Regions from separate parts of the Homo sapiens genome. Here all the other regions are linked to region 4. The links come from fine-mapping of genetic effects on gene expression. A gene starts in region 4. Each other region holds a variant in brackets. All regions are shown on one strand. Distances are between the middles of the regions.

Evidence for each region. PIP is the estimated chance that this variant, and not a neighbour inherited with it, causes the effect.
Region 1: its variant is the best candidate, but not a certain one, in a credible set for the expression of GPR18 in whole blood (INTERVAL, PIP 0.55).
Region 2: its variant is the best candidate, but not a certain one, in a credible set for the expression of GPR18 in blood mononuclear cells (TOPMed, PIP 0.60).
Region 3: its variant is the best candidate, but not a certain one, in a credible set for the expression of GPR18 in whole blood (INTERVAL, PIP 0.66).

What each region holds. Positions count from the first base shown.
Region 1 is chr13:99,344,955-99,350,105 of GRCh38, reverse strand. All of the region lies in intron 7 of UBAC2 (UBA domain containing 2), which reads right to left. Among named protein-coding and RNA genes, the nearest start is that of FKSG29, 3.9 kb to the left of the region's middle. The variant C/T (reference allele first, on the strand shown) is at 2,226.
Region 2 is chr13:99,136,177-99,141,327 of GRCh38, reverse strand. No RefSeq gene overlaps it. Among named protein-coding and RNA genes, the nearest start is that of DOCK9-DT, 52 kb to the right of the region's middle. The variant G/A (reference allele first, on the strand shown) is at 3,161.
Region 3 is chr13:99,334,597-99,339,747 of GRCh38, reverse strand. All of the region lies in intron 6 of UBAC2 (UBA domain containing 2), which reads right to left. Among named protein-coding and RNA genes, the nearest start is that of FKSG29, 14 kb to the left of the region's middle. The variant G/C (reference allele first, on the strand shown) is at 3,025.
Region 4 is chr13:99,255,253-99,260,403 of GRCh38, reverse strand. GPR18 (G protein-coupled receptor 18) reads left to right here and starts at 2,025. Exons shown (of 2, transcript NM_001098200.2): 1 at 2,025-2,250; 2 at 4,498-5,151. The coding sequence starts at 4,532. All of the region lies in intron 4 of UBAC2 (UBA domain containing 2), which reads right to left. It overlaps LOC124903198 (a long non-coding RNA gene), which reads left to right. Exons shown (of 3, transcript XR_007063846.1): 2 at 156-265; 3 at 1,818-1,965.

The sequences.
Region 1 (5,151 bases), 90 kb before region 4:
TTACTAATATAACCTAGGAATAACCGGCGGGCATAGGGTCAGGTGCTGAAGGGACATTGTGAGAAGTGACCTAGAAGGCAAGAGGTGAGCCCTCTGTCACGCCGGCATGAGGGCTCCTTGGTCAAGCGGTAATGCCAGTGTCTGCGAAGACACCCATTACTTAGCAGACCGCGAAAGGGAGTCTCCTTTCATTGGAGGAGTCAGGGAACACTCTGCTCCACCACCTTCTTGTGGGAGGCTGGATATTATCCCAGTCTGCCCGCAGTCATCCGAAGTCCTAAACCCCTCCCTGTGATGCTGTGCTTCAACGGTCACGCTCCTTGTCCACTTTCATGTTCCTCCCGTACTCCTGGTTCCTCTTTGAAGTTCGTAGTAGATAGCAGTAGAAGAAATAGTAAAAGTCTTAAAGTCTTTGATCTTTCTTATAAGTGCATAGAAGAAAACGCTGACGTATGGTGCCTTCTCTCTCTCAGCTTCGGCTACCTAAGAGGGAAGGGCCCCCCTGTCCTGTGATTACGTGACTTGCTTCACCTTGTCAATCACTTAGAAGATTCACCCTCCTTACCCTGACCCCCGGTCTTGTATGCAATAAATATCAGCGCACCCAGCCGTTCAGGGCCACTACTGGTCTCCGCATCTTGATGGCAGTGGTCCCTCGGGCCCAGCTGTTTTCTCTTTATCTCTTTGTCTTGTGTCTTTATTTATTACAATCTCATCTCCGCACATGGGGAGAACACCTGCTAAGCCCTGTAGGGCTGGACCCTATGCTCACTGTGGAGATTCCAAGGGCTTTAGGTGCTGTGTGTCAGGGGCCAGTGGTAGAGAACAGATACATCTTTCTCATCACAGCACACAGAGCTTCTTTGCTACAGCGAGCAAAGGGAGGGAGACATGCACCGTGAAGCTGTGGAGACTCAGGTTGCACAGGCACCATTCGGATGATCATTACTACAGGAGACTCCAGTAATTGATCTGGAGGTCTGAAGACAAGGAGGCTCTGCAAAGCCTGCCCTCGTCCTTCACTGTGATGAGCTAAGCATGCTCTAGCTCATCACCAACAATATCCTGAGCACACAGAATTTTCACTGTCTCCCACCTGGTCTTCTTCCTCTAGTGTCACCTTTTCTTTTCTTTTTCTTTTTGAGCCGTGATTGCACCTTGACCTCCAGGGATCAAGTGATCGTTCCATCTCAGCCTCCTGAGTAGCTGGGACTACAGGCACAGGCCACCACGCCCAGCTGATTTAAAAAATTTTTTTGTAGAGAAGAGGTCTCACTATGTTGCCCAGGCTGGTCTCAAACTCCTAGGCTCATGCTATCCTCCTGCCTTGGCCTCCCAAAGCGCTGGGATTACAGGCATGAGCCACTGTGGCCAGCCTACCGTCATCCCTTCAGACAACGTTCATATTATGACTAAAGTGAGCTTTCTTAAAAATAAATCTAACTTACTCTCCTGTTTAAAAGGCCTCACTGATCCACCACTTCTGGCAGGATGAACACAACAGCAATTCTTAGTTTGGTAGAAGACCCGTCCTGGCCTCTGCTCTCTTCCCAACCATGTCTTTCATTGCCTCTTTCTTATAGGAACCTCAATCTCAGGCGAATGCAATTCCTTGCTGTCCCCACAGCTGTTTTGAGCCCCTGTGCGTTTTTTCATAAGGCCCCCCGTGACTGAAACACCTGCCCCAATGCTGGCCTCAAGATTACCCTCGCTGTATCCCTTAGGGAGAACTGGCCACACCCACTGTTTAGGCTCAGGGTTCTTTTTTCTTCTCTTTGCACAGACTCCTGTAGAAACCTAGTGCCTAGTACAGCCTCATGTCTTCCCCTCGCTGGCTGCAAACTTCTTGAAGGCGCAGGCGGCGTCTTATTTAATCCCTCAGGGCAGTACACTGCATTAGAGCCAAAAGACAAAGAAGTACAACAGCTCCTGTCCTCCAAGAGCTCATATTCTACTGGGGATGAACAAAACACAAACCCATGAAAAGTTATGTAATGGCCCTGGCAGTGTAAAGATGATCACAGCTGCAAGTAGCAAAATGACTCTGAGATGCCACCTGCTTTGGAGAAGGCAGCTCTGCTGGGAGACAAGAGTGAGTCAGCGGGCAAGGAACTACTGAGAGCAGCTTATGTGTGTCCAGCATAGTGTCCCGAGTTTACAAAAGAATGGGACAGCTGTGGATGTGGAGGGAGATAAGAAGTGGGCACCACAGGCTGCAGCTAATA[C/T]TCTGCAGCCCACTCCATCTTCACTGCCACAGGCCCATGAGACAAGCCTCCAAAGGCCTCTGGATAGTCAGTGCTGGCGGGAAATGTCCAGAAAGATCTGTAGGAGGTCAAAGCACACTAGATGACGTTATCACATGCCTGTGCTTAATGATGAGCATGGGACCACTGTACCCTGCCCCTGTCAGCACCTAGGTCTCATGTCTCAGTTGAAGTGAGATCTATAGAGCCATCACCCTGGTCACTGTTCATCAGAGCTGTGGAATGGGAATATGCCACACAGTGGACTAAAAATGCTTCAGGAGCATAAGATCATATTGACTTTCTCACAGAGTGAAAGTAACTTGAACGGGGACCAGCGTGACCACAGTGATGTCCCAGAATGAGGGCAGCCAGTCAGAACAGAGTGATATTGACCTTCCCCCACTTCCAGCTCATGCAGCGCTTCTCATCCCCATCTCTCCACCGAAGCCCCTTTCAAAAGTGAACTCATTCTGCTGAATCCAGTGGTGGTCTTCCAGTATCATCTTCACTTGCCTTTTTTTTCCTGGGGGGGGGGGGGGGCGCCCGGGGATAGTAACGTCTGAATCTGTTCCTGAAACACCTACTCTTCCTGAAACATTCTACTCCGCAGGCTCCCTGGCCACTGAACTGGTTTTCTCCTTGGTCCCTGGGGGTTCTTTTTTTTCCCTCTTTGCACTCTCTAGACATGGGTCTTGCTTTCTACTGTTCTCTCAAGAGTATCCGTAGATCTTTTTTTTTCTTTAAATAGAGATGGGGGTCTCACCATGTGGCCCAAGCTGGTCTCAAACTCCTGGGCTCAAGCAATCTGCCCGCCTGGGCTTCCCAAAGTGCTGGGATTACAGGCGTGAACCACTGCACTCAACCTCTGTAGATGTTTCCAGCCCTGATTATTCATCTGTGTTCAGCTTGCTTAAAGTCTTTCTGTATCTATTTATTATGCTCATATTTGCTCATTAATTCCCACAGTTCCTAACATCTGCCAGGCATTATTCACACACTGGAGATATACAGAAAACAAGTCTGCTCCATCCGGAGACACACTGGTGGAGAAAGGGCAGTAAATCACCAGTGAACATCGGGTTTGCGGTGCCACGAGAGACAGGCAGTGTCTACAGGGGCAGAGAGAGCCCTGGGAGCCCCCCAGGAAGCTGGGGAAGGCCTCCCTGAGGAGGCGATATTTGTCAGGAATGCCGAGTAAATAGCAGCTAGACAAGTGAAAATGATGTGTATGTGGGAGGGGTGGGGTGAAGGGGTTGGTACAGGGAAGTTCATTCTGGGCAGAGAGGAAAGGGAAGATGTAAAGGTGAGACTGCGTGAAACAATATGAGCAGCAGTTAACTGTGAGTAACCCGGTGAGGCATGGCTGGCCTAAGGGCTTGCACACGGCAGCAGAAAGGAGATGCGGCCACATAGCAGGCAGGAGCCTTGTGTTGGAACCACCCTGAAAGCTATGGAGAGGCCCTGAAGGATGATAGCTGGAGTGAAACAAGCAGATTTCTGTTTTCACAGAGATCACTGGTGGAGGCTGTGGGGCAGGCTCAGGAGGGAGGCAGTCGGTGATGGAGATGGGAGGGAAGAAATCCAGGCAAATGGCGCCGGTGGCCTGAACTACAGCACTGGAGATGAATGACGGACTTACATCAAGGAGGGAGACTCTTTGGGGCTGAACTGGTGGGGAAGGCAGGAAGGACATGGATGTATAAGTGGGAAATGTCTGGGGTGAAACCCTAGGTTTGGACTTTCGGGTAAACAATGGGTGCTTTTCATCAGGTAGGGAGTGAGAAAGGGAAACAAATTTAGCAAAGAAACAGTACATGTCGGCTGTGTGCGGTGGCTCACGCCTGTAATCCCAGCACTTTGGGAGGCCAAGGCAAGTGGATCATGAGGTCAGGGGTTCAAGACCAGCCTGGCCAACATGGTGAAACCCCGTCTTTACTAAAAATACAAAAATTAGCCGGATGTGGTGGTGAGCGCCTGTAATCCCAGCTACTCGGGAGGCTGAGGCAGGAGAATTGCTTGAAGCCAGGAGACAGAGGTTGCAGTGAGCCAAGATCACGCCACTGCACTCCAGCCTGGGCAACAGAGCAAGACTCTGTCTCAAAAAAAAAAAAAAAAAAAGAAAGAAAAAAAGAAACAGTACCTGTCAAGAGCTGATGGGACAGTGAAGTGGAGATGTACTATAGGCAGTAGGATATTTCGGTCTGGAGCCCCAGGAGAGAGGGAGGTCCAGTCTCTAGATCTTGAGGGACTCATGGGAGCCATGAGCTCAATAAAGTGGTGAGGACAGGGGCTGGGTGGGTCCCCTTGGGTGTCTAACGTGAAAAGCTCAGTAGGCAGAGAACTGAGTCTTGGGAAACAACCTATTTAGGGAGTGAACAGAGGAAGGAGAGCTCGATCCAGAGTACAGCATCAGCCCAGCCAAGGCACTCCTCTGAGAGCCGGGCTTTAGAAACCTCCTTCTATTTGTCTCCTCCTCTGTGGTTTCTCCTTTCCCCCGTCCATCTTACACTGTGCAATAAAATGACATTTTTCTGAGATAACTGTCCTATCTTTGTTACTGAATAAACAATTTTTCACAGCCAATGTCCAAGCCGAAATCTATTGTCAGGCTTAAACTACCTCCCTCCATTATCAGTTACTATATCATTTCCCATTTCTCACTACATATCTGCCCACATGTCAATCACAGGGCTCCTGGAGGTCTCTCCTTTTTAAGGTCTCATTAGCACCTCCATGCCTCACTCTTGCTGGTCCTCTCCTCTGGAATGATGTGCCTTACCCTCTCCACCCATCCAAATTCCACCCGTCCTTCTACTTCCTGAAATCTTTTTTGGCAGCATCAGTCCACACCAGTGGCTCTCTCCTCAGATTTTCACTGCATGGGTGCTTCAGTAAATATTTCCTT
Region 2 (5,151 bases), 120 kb after region 4:
AGAGCTGCAAAATCAGCAAGTTTTTATTAGGGATTTTAAAAGGGGAGGGGTGTACGAACAGGAAGTAGGTCACAAGGATCACATGTTTCAAAAGCCCATAAAGATCACAAGGCGAAGGCAAAATTAGAATTACTGATGAGGGTCTGTGTCCCACTGTGCATGCATTGTCTTGATAAACATCTTAACAGGAAACAGGGTTCAAGAGCGGACAACTGGTCTGACTAGAATTCACCGGGCTGGAATTTCCCAATCTAGTAAGCCTCAGGGCACTGCAGGAGACCAGTATTTCAGTCCTTAGCTCAATCGCATAAGACAGACGCTCCCAGAGCAGCCGTTCATAGACCTACCCCCAGGAATGCAGTCCTTCCCCAGGGTCTCAATGATTAATATTCCCTGCTAGGAAAAGAATTCAGCGATATCTCTCCTACTTGTACATCGTCTATAAGCTTTCTGCAAGAAGAAAAATATGGCTCTATTCTGCCCGACCCTGCAGGCAGTCAGACCTTATGGTTATCTTTCCTTGTTCCCTGAAAATCGCTGTTATCCTGTTCTTTTTCAGGGTGCACTGATTTCATATTGTTCAAACACACATGTTTCACAAACAATTTGTACAGTTAATGCAATCATCACAGGGTCCTGAGGTGACATACATCCTCAGCTTATGAAGATGACGGGGTTAAGAGATTAAAGTAAGACAGGCATAAGAAATTATAAGAGTATTAATTTGGGGAACTAACAAATGTCCATGAAATCTTCACAATTTATGTTCAGAGATTGCAGTAAAGACAGGTGTAAGAAATTATAAAAGTATTAATTTTGGGAACTAATAAATGTCCATGAAATCTTCACAATTTATGTTCTTCTGCCGTGGCTTCAGCCGGTCCCTCCGTTCGGGGTCCCTGACTTCCTGCAACACAGGTGTGGTGGCACCTGCCTGTAATCCCAGCTACTTGGGAGGCTAAGGCAGGAGAATCTCTTGAACCTGGGGGACAGAGGTTGCAGTGAGCCAAGATCATGCCATTACACTCCAGCCTGGGCAACAAGAGTGAAACTCCGTCTCCAAGAAAAAAAGGGGGATCAGGGAACTTTTTGGGTGATGGTAATGTGCTGCGTGTCACCTCTGCACCCAGAATTTGGGTTACACAGATGACTGAAGTTGTCTAAATGGCCCACTTAAGATGTGAACATTTCACCATTTATATATAACCTTTAAATAAACTTCAGATATTCTCCCACTGAATATGACTATTACTCAGGCCATAGTAAATGCTGGTCTTCCAATAATTTTTCTTTAGTAGAAAAGGAGGGCTGGAAAGAGAGAGAAATTGTTTCAAAGGAAAACTATAACACCTATTACTAGATTCCAGCCCTGGGTTTTGTTTTTGCGTACAGATTGAATCATGAGTTATTTCTGGCTGCAAGAATCCAGGTTATAATTTTCTTCATGTTTTTAGTTGGCACCCTAATGGAATAGATTCCTTCTTCTGTTCTGACACACACGTTCTCTTTTAATTGTCAAATTGTTAACATTACTTATCTCTCATAGTTTTACTTCATGCAAGAACACCAGAATCATGGTCTTCTGAAGACTAGAGATGATTTGACAAAGCCTGTGCGTCTCCTGTACTTGGAATCCCACTTGGCCTGATCTGTTTTTCACTGCAAATACCCAGCTACTAAAACCGTACAGGCACCCTCCCTCTGGGCCCGGGGACTATCATGGAAGAGGTGGGTGCATGAGATTGTAAGGGCTGGTTTTGAGGGACAGAATTAGTTCAGACCCTCCAAATCAAGGATGGGTACACAGATGTCTAAACAGCTGGTGAAATAAGGGACTTTACCTCCTGGATTTTTATGGTGTGGCACCTTTTCACTCGTCCCAACCATGAAGAATTTTCTGCTTCACATAGAATTAAAATAAAATTATTACTGAGAGGATATAAGGATACCTCATGACAAAACCTCCCGGGAATAATACTCCTACTTATGAGATTTATGAAGATAGATATGTATTTAAAAAATTTTTTTTCAGCAGGGCTCAGTGGCTCACGCCTATAATCCCAGCACTTTGGGAGGCCGAGGTGGGTGGATCACCTGAGGCCAGGGACCAGCCTGCCAATATGGTGAAACCCCATCTCTACTAAAATTACAAAAAATTAGCCGGGCCTGGTGGCATGCGCCTGTAGTCCCAGCTACTCCGGAGGCTGAGTATCGCTTGAACCCAGGAGGCGGAGGTTGCAGGGAGCCAAGATCGCACCACTTCACTCCAGCCTGGGCGACAGAGCGAGACTCCATCTCAAAAAATAAAAAATAAAAAATTTCAGCCACCTTAGGACAAATTACTAAAAGACCCCAAAAAGCATTGTGACACAACAAAGTCTCTAAATTCCTTAGCCTAAAAGGTTTTAACAATGCTTATGTGTTGAATAGCTAACTGCTACGAGTCCATAACAAAAACCAAGATTACAGTAGCTCAATGCATGGAAGTTAAAGACAGATAAAGTCAATTTTGTAACCTCACTTTTGGCTTTTTGTTTGTTGGCTTTTGTATTACTTTAAAATTGTTAAGAGGTAATGAATGCCTGTCCACGTCCTTTCCTATATGGCCTAGAACGTATAATTGGCTATAAGTCTCCTGGCTCTAAGTCCATTGGCCATGGATGAGGGCATCACACAGAAGAACAGGATGGACTTGGGTCAGGCAGCCATGCCACCCCAGCAACTCTATGGGACAAAATAAAAGCTTGGTGGCCATTAATGTTGCCTCTGGCAAATCTTGGCCAGAAGGGGGAGAATGCAAACCAAAAATAAAATTCTAAGCCCCCACCCATCTGAATGGACACCTCATTTCGGCAAAGATATTCCAAAGTTAACCTGAAAAATGAGTTCAGGCCACGATGGGAAGAGGGAATCGGACATGCCTCATTATTCCCTCCTCCCTTTTGGAATTACTGACAGAACAGACTCTTTAAGTCTGATAAGAAATATTTATAATCTACCGTCTCTGAAGCCTGATACCTGGAGGCTTCACCTGCATGTTAAAACTTTGGTCTCCAGGCCGGGCGCGGTGGCTCACGCCTGTAATCCCAGCACTTTGGGAGGCCGAGGCGGGTGGATCACGAGGTCAGGAGATGGAGACCATCCAGGCTAACACGGTGAA[G/A]CCCCGTCTCTACTAAAAGTACAAAAAATTAGCCCGGCGTGGTGGCGGGCGCCTGTAGTCCCAGCTACTCGGGAGGCTGAGGCAGGAGAATGGCGTGAACCCAGGAGGCGGAGCTTGCAGCGAACCAAGATCGCGCCACTGCACTCCAGCCTGGGCGACAGAATGAGCCTCCGTCTCAAAAAAAAAAAGAGAAAGAAAATGCATCTCTTACTGAGATGAGTGGGAATTTCTCAACCAGTTCATGTATCCAGAGAATATTAATTCTTGGTAGACTTAACACTAGGTTTAGCACCAATTACATGCCGATTATTTTTTAAATGTAAGCACCGAGAAAACATACAGACATTAATTAAGTAGATGGGGAAGGAAGCATTTTGCCATAGCCTTGACCTTCAATTCTTTGAACCCCTTCTGAGTTATGTCCCCCACCACACAAATATTTATCATCTAAAATAATTTGTAATGATTTATCAGCTGAAACTTTGGTCTTCCTTTAATTTGGTTGTATGCAAAGAAAAAGCAACTACCTGACGTAATGATTTTTTTCAACCACATCAATAGAATCATCCCTCTTTTAACACCAATTAGCATTTCAAAAATCCCTTTATTTAATGCCCCGGAAGTTATTTCACCCCTGCAATGCACCATAGGACGGTTCAGGATGGTGAGAGGCTCCCGTTCTTCAGTAAGTGGAGAAGGGACTGAGAGCGAAGAGCTGGGAAAGGAGACCCTGACCTCAGAAAGGAAGCTGAGATCCTGGGAAGTGATTCCCTCTACACTTAGCCCATGTGTTTGAGCCACAGCTTACCCATGTGTCCCTCAAAGACAGATAACCCAATTTGAAGAATGCTGCTTTCAAGGGTCCTTTCTGGCCAGGTGTGGTGGCTCTTACCTGTAATCTTAGCACTTTGGGAGGTCGAGGTGGGAGGATCACTTGAGCCCACAGGAGTTCAAGACCAGCCTGGGCAACATAGTGAGACCTCGTCTCTATAAAAAACAAAAAAGAATCCTTTCAGTATGTGTAGGGCAAGACTATAAGGCCAAAGACTGAGTCAGATTCCTTCACTCCTGTGTGTATACAGAAACCCTGCATTTTAACATGACACCTTCCTGGATACTGCATCCCCCAAAAAAGGCATGGTGTTTATCTTTAGAAACAATGCTATAACTGTAGGTTCTCTTGCTGGTCAAGGACTTGTTGGACAATATATGCCAAAAGCAAACGTATGAAGCCATGATCCTTCAAAATCCCCTGTACTCACTCTGTAATTGGACTCCAGGGTTTAGGAAATTAGGGGACATATATGGGGCTGGCCCCTGGACCATTCCCAGCCCAGCCATAGCAGACCACTATGATCCAGCTGGAGAGGGGCAGTGCCAAGCCTCATGCCTGCAGGGTGAGACTGTGCAGGTCAGAGGGCCAATGTGCAGAGCCCCTCGGTCGTCACATCCCCAGGGGCAGGTCAAGTCTGGGAAAGACCTGAAGTCAGGCAGGCTATGGGGACAGGAAGGCTGCAGAAGGGGTGGCCACTGTGTCCTGGAGTGCTCTGAGCAGCGTGCCCTGGCCTGCAGGGGACCTTCAGGGCAGCTGTCTAGCCCAATGACTATGAGGAGTTTGGGTACCTGTGAGCTGCCTGCAGAGCCCGGCAGGGTTCAACGGGGCTTTTGATCTGTAGCACTAGGGAGTGTCTGGCATATAGGAAGGGCTCAACCACTAATGTCGTCTGGCTGAATACACGAGTGAATGGTTGAATGAGGGAATGCAAGGCTCGCCTTGCTGATGCTGGAGCAGTTTTCACTGTGACGGACTCCCAGAGACTCTGGATGTCCCTCCTCACCTGTGATGCTGATGCGATCATGCCTTTGGATCTACCCTTCCGACTCAACTGGCGCCTTTCTACGGTGTCTGCTTCAGGCTCACTTTCAGGCTTTGCACTGTATTCCAGGCGGCTTTGTGCTTTCATTATGTGCCTGGCTCCTGCAGCTTTGCT
Region 3 (5,151 bases), 79 kb before region 4:
TCTTCATCTTGAAGGTCATTTATAATGTATGGTTACAGAAGTCTCAAGGCTTCCTATGATTTTCTAGTTAAAAATGACTATGGCTATTCCTTTGTAAAAAAAAAAAAATCTTGATGTGAATTTGATTCTTAGGATTAGAAGATCAGATTAGAACATATTTGACAACTTTCTAATATGAGAAAAGTATACTTCAATGTTTAAAAATAAAATTTAAATTGATGAATTGGCAAGAATTCTTTGAGACTGTGCTACACACCAGGCACTGTTCTGGGAACTTAGAATACAGCAAAGAACAAGATAAGCAAGGCCCCACTCTCACAGGGCTTATAGCAGTCAATGTGGAGAACAGGCAGTAATCAAGTCAACACATAAAACTATTTCTGGCAAGTTCTGGGAAGGAAATAAAGTGACATGGGGCACGAACCTACTCTGGGGGCAGCGGGGGACATCAGGAGAGCCCTCAGAGAAAGTGATACTTGAGCGAAGATCTTAAGGATGATGCGGTGCCCGTGACTTGATGAACTGGGGAAATAACATTTTGGGCAGAGAAAGCAGCAGATGCTGCGCAGCCCGAGCTTGGGAGTGTCTATTAGATATCTTGGGGGGCTACTGAGTGGGCAGGTGGCTATGTAATTCTAGAACTCAAGGAAAAGGTCGAGATAAGGATTTCAGAGTCACTGGATATGATATGACATTTAGGGTAACAGGACTAGAGGAGATAAAATGGGGGGGAGGAGGAGACACAGCAGAAGAGAGAACAGGACTAAGGACTGAATCCAGGAGTGCACAAATATTCTATGGACAGACAGAGTAGGAAACGCCAGTAAGGAAATCTGAGACAGGGCTGCCAGTGAAGAGAAGGGAAATAGAGTTTAGTTATCACTGAAGCTAAGAAGTGTTTTAAAATAGGGATGGTCAGCTATATCTAATGCAGCTGATAAGTAAGACAGAACTAGCCACTGGATGTTGCAAATGGAGGTGTTTGATAAACAAGGTGTTTACAAGAACAGTTTTGGTACCAAAGACAGACTGTAGTAGGCTGAAGAGTGAATGGTGGACAACTTCTGGTTTCAAATAATTTCTGTGCCCCTTTACTCAAAAATAGTACAAGACAAAGAAAATGAAAACAGAAACAAACTCCAAGGTCCATGAAACCAGAAACTAATCCTGAACCATGCTAACAAAATAGAAAGCTTATCAAGTGATTATAAACCACTCTGCATATAAGCAGCATATAAGTCCAAATGCCTGCAGAGAGTCCTGTGGGACTCAGAAAAGCACAGGGACTAGAGCAAGCTTGTTCAACCTGAGGCCTGTGGGCCACATGTGGCCCAGGACAGCTTTCAATGTGGTCCAACACAAATTCATAAACTTTCTTAAAACATTACAAGGTTGGGCGCAGTGGCTCACACCTGTCATCCCTGCACTTTGGGAGGCCAAGGCGGGCGGATCACAAGAGGTCAGGAGTTTGAGACCAGCCTGGCCAACATGGTAAAAACCCGTCTCTACTAAAAATACAAAAATTAGCCGGGCGTGGTGGCACACACCTGTGGTCCCAGCTACTCAGGAGGCTGAAGCACAAGAATCGCTTGAACCTGGGTGGTGGAGGTTACAGTAAGTCGAGATTGTGCCGCTGCACTCCAGCCTGGGCGACACAGTGAGACTCTGTCTCAAAAAAAAAAAAAAAAAAAAAAAAAAAAGAAAAAAAGAAAAAAAGTTAGGAGATTTTTTTGCAATTTTTTTAAAGCTCATCAGCTATCTTCAGTGTTAGTGTATATTATGTGTGGCCCAAGACAATTCTTCTTCCAATGTGTCACAGAAGAGTTCAAAAGACTAGATACCCCTGGACTAGAGGGTCTAGGCCCTGTGGAAGGAGGAGAGAAGTAGAGGGTTACTTAAGTCTGGGTAAGAGGCACCCCAGTTCCTCCTCATGCTCCATGTACCCTTTCTCCCCTCCACAGAGAGAAGGGAAAAGCTGTGTAGGGCATGAACCAAGGAGGGTCCATGTGGGTTGGGAAGGCCAAGGCCTCTGCACAGGCAGATTATGTGCATCTCATGCGGCTGTCAGCATAGGGGTTCCAGAAGAAGACAACAGAGGGAATATGGGGGAAAGGATATTATATTTAAAGAGATAAACAGCTGAGAGTTTTCTAGAATAAAGAAAGAATATAAATCCTTAGGATGAAAGGGCAAGAGTCCCTAAAAGAATGCTAAAACGAAATTTACATCTAGATCCACTGTGGTGAAACAAAAGAAAGAAATCCTTAAAAGCAACCAGGGATAAAATACAGACTGTTTAGAAAGAAAAAATAAACTGTTAGCAAATAACAGCAAGAAAAACTGTAAGATAATTGGGAATAAATAAATAATATATATATAAGGCCTTGACAGAAAAAAAAGAAAAAGATAATAAGGGATATTTTTTCAAAACCAACCCTAGTGATAATAAAGATACCAGTTCCATGAATAGGAAGATGCAAAACTTTTAAGATACCAATTTTCATCAAATTAATACATAAATTAAATATCATTCAAAATAAAATCTTAACAGGGTGTTTTGTTGGAATGTAAATGCCAAGCCTCAAATTCATGCGGAATATTTAAGGTTTGCATTTTAAAAACACCATGTTGGGAGAAAGAAGCCAGACCCAAAGCCTGAAAACACGATTCCACTTCTGTGAATGAATGAACCTAAACCACACACTAAGCAGTAAAACGAGACAGGAAAGCGCAAAGATGATGACTATGTGTGCTAGGAGGGGTCACAGAAGGGAGGGAGAAAGAAGGGGAAGGGGTCACAGGAGGGAGGTGGGAAGGAGGAAGAGAGGTGGGAAGGAAGGGGGGCACCATGGGCTGCGGGGCTGGCCAGGCATGGTCTGTACCTGCATGGTGGATTATGGGTATATTTGCTTTATAGTGATTTGCAAGGCTTTGTGACAGTTAGTTTGTGTTGTATATCACAATTAAGAGTTAAAAGACAAAGAAATAAAAAACCCAGAAAAGGCAAGGCAATTTTAAAGAAAC[G/C]TAAGTCCTATCAGATTTCAAGACATACTATAAAGTTTGGCTACCTAAAACAGTGTGGTCTTTATCTAGGGTTACTTAAATAGACCAAGAGAACAAGAGCCTAGAAATAGGATCCTCAGTGTAAGGGCACCTGGTATTCAGCAGACATGGGTAAATTGGGAGGGAAGGGGCACATGGGCTATACACAAGGAAGAGACAGAACAGGGCCCCTTCCTGACACCAAACGTAAACTTGCAATGGAATAAGAACTCAAATAGAATTCATGAAATTGTAAATCTTTCTGCACAAAATACAGAAGGAATACCTTTTTGGCACTGGGGTGGCAAAATATTTTAAATTAAGAAACATAAGGTACAAACTAGAAAAGAAAACACACACTGGTCTACTTTACAATTTAAAAGCTGTAGTATGCCAAAAGCTACCATAAATGAAATGAAAACACAAGAGGCCTGAAGAAAGTATTCAGAATTCATACAGCCAACCAAGGCAGCATTCAGAACATATCAAGAAACCCTAGGAATGTGTAAGAAAGAGCCCAGTTTTAAAAGCATATGAAAAGGTAATTTCAGAAGAGAAAACTCAAATGGCTGACAAACTCATGAAAAGATGTTTATCCTCACTTGTTTTTAGGACTCTGAAATCTAAAATGAGCAATCTTAAATACAGCAACTGGCAAAAATGTAAAGCTCCTCTAACATCCAGTTTTATCTCTTTTTTTTTTTTTTCCATTTTGTGGAGAATGAGGTGTTGCCATGTTGCCAGGCAGGTCTTGAACTCCTGGGCTCAAGCGATCCTCCTGCCTCTGCCTCCCTAAGTGCTGGGATTCCAGGTGTGAGGTTTTGGTAAGGATGGAGGGAACTGAGAACTCTCACACAGTCCCGAGGGAAGGTGAAGCTATGGCGCCTCTGGGGAGCAATGTGGCAACACCAAGTAGAGCTTTGAGGCTCATTCCACTGCAGCCCTGCATGAGAGAGAGAGGAAGCAGAAACAAATCATCCCCAAGAGGGGAACAGCTGCAGAGTGGGTTATTCATACAACACAGTACTATACAGCCATCCAGATGAACTCCATGTGCGTGTACTGATGTGTTTAAAGTGGAATGAAAAATACACATAGAAGGTATCACATGTTGCGCTCATCTTCCTGCAAAATTTCAGACAACAAAATAATAGTCTATGCCGTTTGTGCACACATCTGTCTGCGGTAACTACAGAATCACAGAAAGCAGTCTTTGCTGTAGAGGGGTGATGGGGGACAGGGTAGGGGGTAGGCAGAGGCATTCTCTGTAACAAATATATATTTTTAATGAAGAGAGACATATGAAGTCAATATGGAAAAAAAAAAACAGTAATGAATTGGAGGCAAGGAAGTAGAAATGCCTTTTCTGAAGATCTGATATAAAACAGAAAATAGGGTGTATATCAGCATTACGCTGATTCAGCAGAAGATAGCAAAATGTTATAAACATAACAAAATATTAAAAATGTAGTACAAATTAGAGCTGTGAGATTTGAATGAAGTACAAAATTAAACATTTTTATTTTTCGGTCTCAAAGTATTCAACTGTGATTGTTGATTTGTTCATTGCTCCCATTAGCTATTTTAACTTCATATATCTAGAAGCTGTTCCTGTTTGTGGACGCTGTTATTAGGCACACAAACACAACTGACCCTTTCGTCATAACAAAGCATTCTGCTGTGTTTTTAGTAATACTCATAGAGAAGTCTACTTTGTCTAATCTTAAAACAGCCATTTCAGCTTTCTTATGGTTACTGTCTCCATAATATATCTTCATCCTTTTAATTTCAGGCTTTTTTTGTGTCTTTGTATTTAAAGTGTGTCTTGTAGATACCATATAGCAATTTTTTTTCTTTTAAATTAGTCTGACAATCTCTACCTTTTGATTGGAGTGTTTAGCTATTATTCATACTTAATGTATTTGCTTGAATAGCTGGATTTTGCAATTTGGTTTCTGTCTGTCTCATCTGTTTCTTACTCTTTACTCCCCCTTTCCTACGTTCTTTTGTGCTATCAAATATTATTTAGTATTTTGGTTTTTTTCAGCTATATATCACTGTATTTTCCCCCTCATATTTGCCCTAGAGGTTATAATATGCATTCAAAAT
Region 4 (5,151 bases):
TCTTCACCTACTTGTTCAGTCAGAAATTCAACCAATATTAAATGCCTCTTCTCTACACACATATGCAACACATGCCAACTCTCAAGGAATGCAATTTAGTGGAGGAGAAAAAGCAAGTAAATATGCAGTAACAATGCAAACATGTGCCACTACAGGGATAGGTACCAAGTGCTAAGGAAACCTGCAGGGATGAACAACCAGCCCAGCTTCGGAGGGCAGAGAAACCAGCCCAGCTTCGGATGGCAGAGAAAGCTTCCTGAAAAAGGTAGCTACAAGAACAAAGAGCAGCAGGCCATGCCATCAGGTGGGAGACAGTGGTGAGGAATGCCACAGTGGGTGGAACAGCATGTGAGAGGCAGGAAGAGCAAATGTAGCCAGTCCAGAGGGCTGGAATGGAGAGCAAGATGAGGAAAAAGTGAGAGCTCACCCCAACCTGAAGCCAGGCCTATGGAGAGCCCTCAGGTGCTCCTGGATGCCTCCTCTAAGAGTCTGGCAATTCAGAAACAAGAATGCCCCTGTGCACCGTGAAGAATTCAAGTCTTGATGAAAGGACTCTTCTAGACACATGCCATCAATGTATCTGTTGATTTTAGCAGCAATGGGGAAGCTAATCAATACTTAATTTTAGAAAAGTCCTAAGCTATGTGAATAAGGCAAAGGACAGATTAGGTCTGCATGCAGGCAGATTTCTGTCCAGCTGAAACATCAAACTCCTGTGTGATGAATGAAATATAACATCACATATAAAAAACTGATGAATGTGATTCAGCCATAAGAAGTCCTATCTAGTGGACAGATCAATATAATTACCTCATAAGAAGTTATTACAGCGGGAGAAACTGGACCTGGCTTTACCTTGAGTTCTTAAGCAAGTAACTGGCCTTCAATTTCTTCATCCACACAAGAAATAGTTGCTATGGTTGTCTCCAACACTTCTAAAACCCATCATTCTGGCAGGTTGTAACAATCAAAAGTATTTTATCACCAAAGGCAAGGATTTAAGTAACTTTTCTAAGCCACAGATTTACTATGGTTTTGTCTGAGAAAAAAAAAAAAAAGGATGGACCCCAAACTGTCTAAAATTCAAAAAAACAAATACATTTAAGTTCATGAACCCTTTAAAAAGTTGACAAACCATGCATAACCAAACATAAAGATAATTAAAATTTTAGGATAAGCAAATGAGAGATAATTTTTTTTAAGAAATGAGAAAGTAAAACAAAATTAACCTAACAAGGCAGGCAGCGATTCGTTGCTCACTTCCCTTTCTGCTGGTTTCATTTCCCTTCTTAGGTGAAAACACTCTTAATATGTAAATCAGTCCACTAAAGACTTCAGAGTCCTTTCTGCTAAGATTTGCAGAAATTTTTATGCAAAAGAAATTATTTCTAGACTTCCACGCACTAGAAAAGCAGACTTACAAAATACAGCAAACTAAAGTGGATAAATGTATGTGGCAAAGCAGAAGCAATTAATCAAGGATCCTACTTTTAAGCATTTAGAAATGTTTAAATAGTAAAAAGTGGAAATGTGGATATTCTATGATTTTTAATAACTTGGTAGTAAAAAGTGAGACTCCATTTAGGAGTACCTACTAAGTGCCAGGTACTATTAAGCACTTGGGATCTTTCTGGTTTAGGGCCCCTACAATCCTACTGGATATAGTATTATCTCTATTTCAACTGTACAGAAATGAAGTAGGAACAAAGGGTTAGTCAGAGTGGGTAGGTAACTAGACAAAGTCACATAGCTTATAAAGCAAAGAAGCTAGACTTTAAACCCCCTTTTACTCAATATCAAATCTTCTCTTTCCATAGATGATGCAGACTTCAAGCATCAAAGTACACAAACTGAAGAAACTTTATCCTTTGTATATAATTATCTTAAATATATGCCATCATTTCAAGGGGAGCTTATGCTAAGTGTGACTTCATAAACAAATCATTTGTGAAAGAGAAAAACCACATCCAGGGTAAAGTCATAAGGTGAAAAAGCCTATTTCAGAGAGCACTTCCTGAAAGAGACAAAGCAGCAATTAAAGTCAGCCCAGCACCAACTCCGACGCCAAGCGTTACACTGGAAACTACTTTTTAAAGCAACAAAAGAGTCTAAAACAAAATACAACATTTCTTAAATACACTGTTTCCAGAAAGAGCTATTTTAACAGAAGCAACTCAAAGATATCCCTTCGACAGAAGTGGAAGTGCTGAAAAATGCTCATCTCTCACACAGACTTTTGATGGACAGGAGGTAAGCAGCATTTAATTAACTTCATGATTATTGTCAAAAGTAATGCTTTATGTACTGCATTTCAAAAATCATTTCATTTTAATAATACAGGCTGGGCGCAATGGCCCACGCCTGTAACTCCAACACTTTGGGAGGCCAAGGCAGGAGGATCAGTTGTGCCCAGGAGCACCATAGTGAGACCCCGTCTCTATTAAAAAAATATATTTAATTAAAAAAATAAACATAACAAACTATGTTGGTGAAAGACCTTGAAATAGGCTATATAATCATCTTTCCACATTAATATGATTTTACATTTATTTTCAATATTGCTTTACATTAATACTAAATGTAATTTTTTTCAACTTAAGGAAAGAAAATGTTTATGGTAAATCATATGTATATTTAGGAATGTTCATCACATGTTTTCAATTACATTGTTTCATGAAATAACTTAATGGTTTTTAAGAAAAGAAAAGCTACAGATAATCATGGTATCTATAGCTTTTAAAAAGCTGACTTTAAAGTCAATCACTTTTCAATATTTATCCAAAAATTTCTGTGTTTGCAGAGCACAATCAATACTATAATGCCTTTAAAACACATGCATCACTCATTTTTTTTCAAACGTCAGCAAATGAATATAAGTATTGGTGACAAGCTACATAAAAACAGCTTGAGCATAACGTGGGAAAAAAGACTCAAGATGGTTTGTAAGTACAGGACTTATGTCACAAAATTGAAGGATGAGGATAGGTGAAGGGAGTCCTGATGCAATACTAAAAAAAGAAAAACAAATACAAAATTTCATTTATATTATAATTGCTACTATTTAATAAGAATGCATTCCAGTTAAAAATAAGATTTAAGCCTCCAAGATTACTCTCCTTTGAATGACACTAGAGATATAATTTTTCTCTGTAGCACTTTCCTCATTTGATAGAAATTAATATTCTAGTCACACCAATATTTGGAAAATTTAATATGTTTTTAAATATATAGAATTATGCTCCTAAATCATATTTAACCTAAATATTTGAGAAGGAAAGAAGGAGAAGAAGGGAAGAAAGGGAAGGGAAGGGAAGGGAAAGGAAGGAAGGCAGACAGGCACGTTTCTTGTGTTTAACCACAGCAATTGCTCAAGTTAATTCTTAATTATCAATAGCCCGTGATGCCACTGACCACAGACAGCAAATCTCCCCCATAGTTTTCCTTAAAGAGAAATTCTGGGCTGATTTCAAGACAGCCCACTCTGCAAAGTGACATTTTTGAAGGAAACTTTTCATCCACCTCCATATTACAAGGGGATGCCACAGATTCCATCTCATTGCAGCAAAGTCTATTTTTGAAGTCTGTTGTTGGTGTTGCATCATGGGGGAATGAAGTTTCACACTGAGGAGTCAATGATATTTGCAACCCCAAATAACCTCCTTTCCATTTAAAATGGACGGTTTTTTTTTTTTTGGTGATGGAAATTTATAAGTTTCTACATACACATCAAGTTACTGAATGACTTCTTATTAATATCTACTTGTCTTAGATACTCCTTTTTTGGATTTACTTTGAAAATTGTTAAAATTTAAATAATATTGAAGCTTCTGAATCTAGATGGAATGAGGATATGAAAGTTACTAACGGCACTAGCTTTTTTCAAGGTGCTGCTTTCTGTGAACCACTGAAGTAGAGCAGCTGAAATCACAAAACCTGGAAGACTTGGCTTTACGTACTCCCAATTGTGCACTAGAAAACAGCTCATCTATTGCTCTAACAGTCTAGTTCTTGATCTGCTGACCATGACACAAAACATTGCTGTTTCTCAACCTATGATAATTTAAAGAGAACATAAGGTAATAAATATTATGAAGTGTTTCCACTTTAAAAAAAACAAAAAGTTTAATAGCCAGCTACACAAGTCTTCATTTTCAAACTAGAGAATTACAAACTAGAGTTTTTTAGCAAAGTAGAGTTGCTGTGAATCATCTCATCAAAAGTTCCTTCATTTATTCATCAATTCAGTAAATATTTATTTATTGAGTACCTATTACATGCTCAATAGACAGTGGGGCTATAGCTGTAACAAAGGAAAAGTTCCCATTCTCTCTCAAATGAGAATTACTGTGAATGTTCAGTAGTTAACCAGTTGAATCGTTCCTTGATTAAATGCTCTCGAACTTAAAATTCACTGGCAGTCAAGCTGAGTGGGAGAATGTTAAGCATTTATTTTTTAACCAACGATTTTATTCTTATTTTTCTTAACTATTTTTACAGTTTCTAAGTATCATGCCTACCAACAAGCTGTAAAATGATCACCCTGAACAATCAAGATCAACCTGTCCCTTTTAACAGCTCACATCCAGATGAATACAAAATTGCAGCCCTTGTCTTCTATAGCTGTATCTTCATAATTGGATTATTTGTTAACATCACTGCATTATGGGTTTTCAGTTGTACCACCAAGAAGAGAACCACGGTAACCATCTATATGATGAATGTGGCATTAGTGGACTTGATATTTATAATGACTTTACCCTTTCGAATGTTTTATTATGCAAAAGATGAATGGCCATTTGGAGAGTACTTCTGCCAGATTCTTGGAGCTCTCACAGTGTTTTACCCAAGCATTGCTTTATGGCTTCTTGCCTTTATTAGTGCTGACAGATACATGGCCATTGTACAGCCGAAGTACGCCAAAGAACTTAAAAACACGTGCAAAGCCGTGCTGGCGTGTGTGGGAGTCTGGATAATGACCCTGACCACGACCACCCCTCTGCTACTGCTCTATAAAGACCCAGATAAAGACTCCACTCCCGCCACCTGCCTCAAGATTTCTGACATCATCTATCTAAAAGCTGTGAACGTGCTGAACCTCACTCGACTGACATTTTTTTTCTTGATTCCTTTGTTCATCATGATTGGGTGCTA